2 linked regions of the Homo sapiens genome follow. The protein of the gene in region 1 purifies or fractionates together with the protein of each later gene. This does not show direct contact. Each region holds a gene or a part of one and is shown in the gene's direction. Other genes may lie near its edges.

Region 1 (3,822 bases):
CTCCTGGGTTCAAACGTCTCCTGGATTCCCTTACCTCAGCCTCCCAAGTAGCTAGGATTACAGCCGCCCAGCACCACGCCTGGCTAATTTTTGTATTTGAGTAGAAACGGGGTTTTGCCACGTTGGCCAGACTGGGTATTTTACTTTTCAGTGATTTATTTTTATATTTTAAAAAATGGACACGATAATTGTACGTATTCATGGGGGTACATAGTGATGTTGTGGTGTATGTGATGTATAGTGATCAGATCAGGGTAATTAGCATGTCCATCATCACAAACGTTTATCCTTTTGAATATTTTCAGTCCATGGTTGGTTGAGTCCATGAATGTGGACCACATTCTACATAAAGAGGCTGACTGTGTATTCTTCCTCAACTCTGTTTTTTTTTTGAGAGAGACTCTTGCCCTGTCCCCCAGACTGGAGTGCAGTGGTGCGATCTTGGCTCACTGCGACCTCTGCCTCCCGGGTTCAAGTGATTCTCCTGCCTCAGCCTCCCTAGTAGCTGGGATTATAGGCACCTGCTTGGTAGCCCGGCTAATTTTTGTATTTTTAGTGGAGACCGGGTTTCACCATGTTGACCAGACTGGTCTTGAACTCCTGACCTCAAGTGATCTGTCCGTCTTGGCCTCCCAAAGTGCTGGAATTACAGGGATGAGCCACTGCACCTAGCTCCGTCAATTTTTTTGTTTTTTTTTTGTTCTTGAGATGGCATCTTGCTCCGTCACCCAGGCTGGAGTGCAGTGGCGCGATTTCCGCTCACTGCAACCTCTGCCTCCCGAGTTCAAGCGATTCTCCTGCCTAAGCCTCCTGAGTAGCTGGGACAACAGGCGCCCGCCACCACACCCGGCTAATTTTTTGTATTTTAGTAGAGGCAGAGTTTCACCATGTTGTCCAGGATGGTCTCGATCTTCCGACCTTGTGATCCGCCCGCCTCAGCCTCCCAAAGTGTTGGGATTACAGGCATGAGCCACCGCACCTGGCCGTCCCTCAACTCTTTTCCAGTGTACCTGGGTCCCCTAATACAGTAGCTAACACTTAACTACAGTTCCATACGTGGTAACACATTTAATCTTCACAACAGTCCCAGGAGGTAGTGATAATATTATTCGCATTTACCGGTGAGGAAACTGAGACACAGAGAGGTTAGTAATTTGCCCAAGGTTTCCAAGCTATGTTGGAGTCAGAGTTTTGATAAATAAAATCAACTTCATACACTAGTAATAATGGCAGCTAAGGTTTATTGAATGTTTACTATGTGCCAGGCACTGTACTGAGTACTTTATGTGCATTATCTCATGTAATCCTCACAACAGTCTTGTTAGGTGGATAGTATTATTTCTGTTTTACAAATGAGGTAACTTGCCGAGAGTCAAACAGCTTGTAAATGGTGGGCGGAGTCAGGATTCAAACTCAGGTACTGTATATGCCTGAATTTTTAATTAAGCACCCGCTCACAGTTAACTCCCAGCAGGAAGGAATCAGCTTCGAGTGTTTTTATTAATATTATTGAGACAGGGTCTCCATCTGTCATCCAGGCTGGAGTACAGTGGTGCGATCATGGCCTACTGCAGCCTCCACCTCCTGGGCTTAAGCAGTCCTCTCACTTCAGCCTCCCAAGTAACTGAAGCTACAGGTGCACGCCACTACACTTGGCTAATTTTTAAATTTTTATGTAGAGAGAGGGTCTTGCTATGTTTCCCAGGCTAGTCTTGAACTCCTGACCTCAAATGATCCTCCTGCCTTGACCTCCCAAAGTGTTGGGATTACAGGCATGAGCCATTGCTCCCCAGCGAGATATTCTTTCAGTTGTTTTATTTTGAACTAGTACGACTGAGGAAACAAAGACGCATCAACTTGAATCCCCATTGCTAGTTGGGTATGGTTAAGAGTGTCAGTTATAGAATTAGTTTAAAAAAAGAGGGTGGGGTCAAAGAAATTAAACATAGGCGTAATTCCTGGGTGAAAGATGTGCAATTGTGAATGTTGGATGTCATTGTAAATATGTTTTAAAGTCCCCTTTAAAAAGCAGTACCTCACTTCAGCCTGGGTGACAAAGTGAAACCCTGTCTCAAAAAATAAATAAATAAATAAAAAATAAAAGCAATACCTTGAATGGCTGTGACAAGTGACAGAATATCCTAATGTTAAGCATATGTATACTTACTGTGTGGGATAAAATTTCTATTGACAGCTTCAATTTTGGATTCAAAATTGTACTTTAGACAACTTAAAGTGTAGGTTCTATACTCTGGAAAACTGTTGAAGAACCTAAAAAGTGGTTCTGGTCAAAGATCTGTATAATGAGTTTGAATGAAAATTATTCCTGTGAAAGGTGAGAGAGGAATAAAAACAATACTTCTAAGTTAATATTTGATTATAATATTATGTATAACTAAATTAATACATGTAACTAAATTAAATATTCTAACTAGTATTAGGCTAATTCATCGGTATCCCCAAAAGTTATTAAAATTGGCACTCAAAAATTATTTGGATCTTCAGAATCATTTATGTTTGGCCATTTACTGTAGAACCCAGGTTTTTGGCCAGCTCACGCCTATAATTCCAACACTTTGGGAGGCTGAGGCAGGCAGATGGATCCCTTGAGTACAGGAGTTCGAGACCAGCCTGGGCAACATGGCAAAACCGTGCAAAAAATACAAAAAATTAGCTGGGCGTAGTGGCATGTGCCTGTAGTCCTAGTTACTCACAAGTCTGAGGTGGAGGATTGCTTGAGCCAAGGATGTTGAGACTGTAGTGAGCCTTGATGGCGGCACTGCACTCTAGCTTGGGTGACAGAGTTTAGAACCTCTCTAAAAACAAAACCAAAAACAAAAAACTAGGTCTTAACCACCAGGCTATACTACCTGCATACAGGATAGAAATCATTGGATTGAAACTAAGTTCTTTCATTATGATAGTCGGGAGGGTTTACGTAGTCTAGTTTTGTTCTTCTAGTAGTTAGGTTGAAAGTATTATATACTTTTCTTTTTATCTTGTGTGTTTGATAGCACCAAAGACTCTGCACAGAAGCAGAAGAACTCGCCTCTGTTGAGTGTAAGTAGCCAAACAATAACCAAGGAGAATAACAGAAATGTCCATTTGGAGCACTCAGAGCAGAATCCTGGTTCATCAGCAGGTGACACCTCAGCAGCGCACCAGGTGGTTTTAGGAGAAAACTTGATAGCCACAGCCCTTTGTCTTTCTGGCAGTGGGTCTCAGTCTGATTTGAAGGATGTGGCCAGCACAGCAGGAGAGGAGGGGGACACAAGCCTTCGGGAGAGCCTCCATCCAGTCACTCGGTCTCTTAAGGCAGGGTGCCATACTAAGCAGCTTGCCTCCAGGAATTGCTCTGAAGAGAAATCCCCACAAACCTCCATCCTAAAGGAAGGTAACAGGGACACAAGCTTGGATTTCCGACCTGTAGTGTCTCCAGCAAATGGGGTTGAAGGAGTCCGAGTGGATCAGGATGATGATCAAGATAGCTCTTCCCTGAAGCTTTCTCAGAACATTGCTGTACAGGTCAAGTGTCAAGTTTCTACTACTAAAATGTAATTGGGGGGTGGTGGGGTTCAGGGTGGGAGATATTTCTTCATATTTGGTGGAGAACTTGCTGGCTTGTTTTGTTTTTTGTTTTTTTTGCTAGCAACCATCATACTACTCTCATACAGTGCCATACAATGACTTCATTCTGATGTTCAGTAAATAAGAAAGCCAGTAGCCATTGTCTAATCTTATGGCAAGTAGGAACTTTATGACCTACGTGTAGTCTCTTTCACTGAGTAACTGATGAGTGCAGGACATTAGCATTCATATTTA
Region 2 (3,822 bases), on another chromosome or scaffold:
ACTTGTACATGAATGTTCATAGCAGCATTAGTCATAATAGCCCAAAATGGGAAATAGCCCAAGTATTCGTGAGCTGATAAATGGGTACGTAAGTATTGGAACCTGGGAGGTTGAGGCTGCAGTGAGCCTTGATTGTGCCACTGCAGTGCAGCCTGGGCAACAGAGTGAGAGTCTGCCTCAAAAACAAATGGCCAGTCTTGGTGGCTTACGCCTGTAATCCTACCACTTTGGGAGGCCAAGGCAGGAGGATTGCTTGAGCTCAGGAGTTCAAGACCAGCCTGGGCAACATGGCGAAACCCATCAATACAAAAATTAGCCAAACATAGTGGCACATGCCTGTAGTCCCAGCTACTCAGGAGGCTGAGGTGGAAGGGTCAGTTGAGCCCAGGAGGCAGAGGTTGCAGTGAGCTGAGATCGTGCCACTGCACTCCAGCCTGAGTGACAGAGTGAGACGCTGTCTCAAAAAAAAAAAAGAGTACTGATAACATGCTGCAGCATGGATGGACCTTGGAAACATTATGCTAAGTAAAAGAAGCCAAACACAAAGGGCTTGTGTGAGTCCATTCCTATGAAATCTCCAGAATAAGCAAGTCTGTATATAGTGACAGAAAGTAGACCAGTGATTGCTGGGCCTGGAAGGTTAGGGGAAAATGAGGAGGGACTGCTAATGCGTATGGAGTTTCTTTTTGAAAATGTTCTAAATTTAGACCGTGGTGATGTCAGCACATCCTGTGAATATGCTAAGAACACCGAACCGTACACTTCATTTGAGTTGTATAGTGTGTAAATTATGTCTCAACAAAGCTATTATAAAAAATACAACACAGGGATTCTTGGATTTACCTCTCTTCATACAAGATTGGGATAGAGGCATAGGAGCTATTGATAACAAAAAGCCAGCACTGGAAGCATGGCATGAGTCTCTTGGGGGCTTCATTAGCAGTGGAATAATTCTCCAGGGAGTCCACAAACAACAGTGGCAGAGCTGCAAGGAGGAAGATAATGGGAGTGTTAGGATTCTGGATGAGGTGATGTTGGGCAAGAGGAGCCTGGTAAAGTCCTCAGGATTACCCTAAGGGTTATTCTGCCTTACTTGACTTCCTCTTAATGCTTATGGAAGATTTCTGAGAGCTGTAAATTATAAAATGCGATTTGATGATTGTAACAGGACAAAATTTTGATTCTTTCGAAATTCTGAAAAAAAATTTTGTCCAGTCCTCTTTTTAAATCTCTCTTATGTCTCTTATCAGCCTTCCTTTTAAAAGGAAAAACTTTAAAAGTTGTATGTAGTTTGTTGTTGGTGAAAAAATTTAGTCATTCTTATGCTGAAAATATTTTGATGGCAAGAGGTTATTGAAATCACAAGCATTTTTATTGACAGATTAGTATTGTAATGGTATCATTTTTGTTTATTTTGTTTTAGATGCTGTTAGAGAAATTTGTTGAAGAATGCAAGTTCCCTCCAGTGCCAGATGCCATTTGTTGCTATCAGAAGTGCCATGGATATTCTAAGATCCAGATATACATAACTGATCCAGACTTTAAGGTAAATAATGAGTGTACAGTGGGACATTAACTTGCAAAATCATTTCTTAAAATGGGCTCAAAACAATCTGTAATTGGAGGCACCCAAGTTCTCTGGCTAGTTAGCAGTCGTCCACCCCTTTCCCAGGATTTTTTTTTTTTTTTTGAGATAAGTCTCACTCTGTCACCCAGGCTGGAGTGCAGTGGCACGATCTTGGCTCACTGCAACCTCCGCCTCCTGGGTTCAAGCAATTCTCCTGCCTCAGCCTCCCAAGTAGCTGGGATTACAGGCGTGTCCCAGCACGCCCAGCTAATTTTTGCATTTTTAGTAGAGACAGGGTTTCACCATATTGGCCAGGATGGTCTCGATCTCTTGACTTCGTGATCCACCCCCTCAGCCTCCCAAAGTGTGGGATTACAGGTATGAACCACCACGCCCAGCCTTCCTGGACTTTTTTAGGTCTACATCGTCTCACATGGGAACCAGAGCCACTGATGTATAAACGCTCTGGGCTGGGGTAGTGACCTGAGAAGGCAGGCTGGCTCATTCTTTTTCCTCTTCAAGCTACCTTAGGAGGATAGGAAACAAAGTGAGATTGTTACCTCTGATTTGTTGCAATTCTGATCTCTCATAAAATTTGAGTCCCAAATCTAAAGGTCATTGTGATCATTGAATTAGCTGTTAGAGACCTAAATTTGAGATAAGTCTGGCACTTAATTGAGTTATACTGGTTTATTCAAGAAGCTAGTAGCTGCCCTTGTCCTGCTGTTCCAATGTCCCTGGTTAGTAAATCAGATGAAATAATGTTTATAAAATATTTGATATATTTTGAAGAATGATGCAACTTTATGCTGTGGAAATAAATATGTTAGTCAAGCTCTCTCTGTCTTTATGTATGTTGTAGTGAGTGAGTGTGCAGAGACATCTTTAAAACGTTAATTAAAAAATTTTTTGTAACCCTAGGGTTTTATACGCATCAGCTGTTGCCAGTACTGTAAAATAGAATTTCACATGAATTGCTGGAAGAAGTTAAAAACTACAACCTTTAATGATAAAATTGACAAGGTAAAGCATAACAGGATTGTCTGAATTTTTCAGTATACTTATTGTATGTCAATTTTTCCCCCAAGAATTCCTTCCTGAACATTCTGCACATAATTAGAAAATTTTAAATTATAACTTTAATAATAAAGTGGAAAATCAAATTTGTTTTTATTTGGACAATCATAAAGGCATTAACCATAGAGGCTTTGTTTTTTTAAAGAGACGGATCTCACTGTGTTGCCCAGGCTAGAGTGCAGTGGTGCAGTCGTAGCTCACTGCAGCCTCAGACTCCTTGACCCAAGTGATCCTACTTCAGCCTCCCAAAGTGCTGGGATTATAGGCATGAGCCACTGCACCAGGCCCCACTTGAAAGTTTTGATGTGGAATTAGGGATTTCAAAACCAAAATTTGATGAGGTAATTTGTACTAAGAAGTCAACTCAAAACAATTTTTTTAATGTTGGGAAGAAAGATCAACTTCAATTTTAAACTGCCATTTCTCTCCAGGGATTTTCTTATTACCAAGATAATGATGTTAATTACCATTAAGTAGACATACTTTGAGGGAAGTCATAGTATTACAATCTTATTTGTATTCATAGAATTTGTTTCTGATCTATAGAAACTATGGACCTTTTCCTACACTTCTTAGGCTTATGCAGACCACTGTTCTTATTGGGGAAAGAATGAGGCAGTTGTACTAGGCATCTGTTAACAATAGCAATTATTAAAGTATGGTAGAAATAAATTCTCACATTTTGTACATTTTCACATAATTAATTAACAATATAATGATATGAGTAAATAACTGTCACCTTTGAGTCACTTCTGCTATGTCTTTGTCTTACCTAAATTGAGTTTCTCTAGTGATATACCCTCTTTTAGTGGTCTTAACTATTCCCATCATTTTAAATACACTCTGTAAATTAGTCAGCTTTCCCTAGGATATGCTGAAGTGATGCAACCCAAATATCTTGTGGCATACATCAGAGAAGTTTGTTTTTTGCTTACATGACTTGTCCTGCAGTTCTGCAGTTGTTGGCTGGGACTGGGCTGTAGCAGCTTTATTTTGTGTGGCTCTATTCCTTGTTTCTCAATCTAAGTTGAAGAATGACCCTTTTCTGGAACATCTTCCTGTGTCAGAGGAAAAAGAACAATGTCCAGTCTATGAAGTGTTTGTTAAACCTTTTGTCTAGACATGTGTATGTCATGTCTGGTCACTTTGCATTGATGAAAACAAGTCACATGGTCAGA

The links.
Region 2: the proteins of RNF214 (region 1) and TTC3 purify together in Homo sapiens (affinity purification with mass spectrometry; one large-scale study listed by BioGRID and IntAct). This does not show direct contact.

Annotation. Positions count from the first base shown.
Region 1 is NC_000011.10:117,235,587-117,239,408, forward strand, and holds part of RNF214 (RING finger protein 214), read left to right. Parts: intron 1-3,014; coding exon 3,015-3,525; intron 3,526-3,822.
Region 2 is NC_000021.9:37,146,058-37,149,879, forward strand, and holds part of TTC3 (E3 ubiquitin-protein ligase TTC3), read left to right. Parts: intron 1-1,423; coding exon 1,424-1,546; intron 1,547-2,488; coding exon 2,489-2,590; intron 2,591-3,822. UniProt on the Homo sapiens protein: E3 ubiquitin-protein ligase which catalyzes the formation of 'Lys-48'-polyubiquitin chains. Mediates the ubiquitination and subsequent degradation of phosphorylated Akt (AKT1, AKT2 and AKT3) in the nucleus.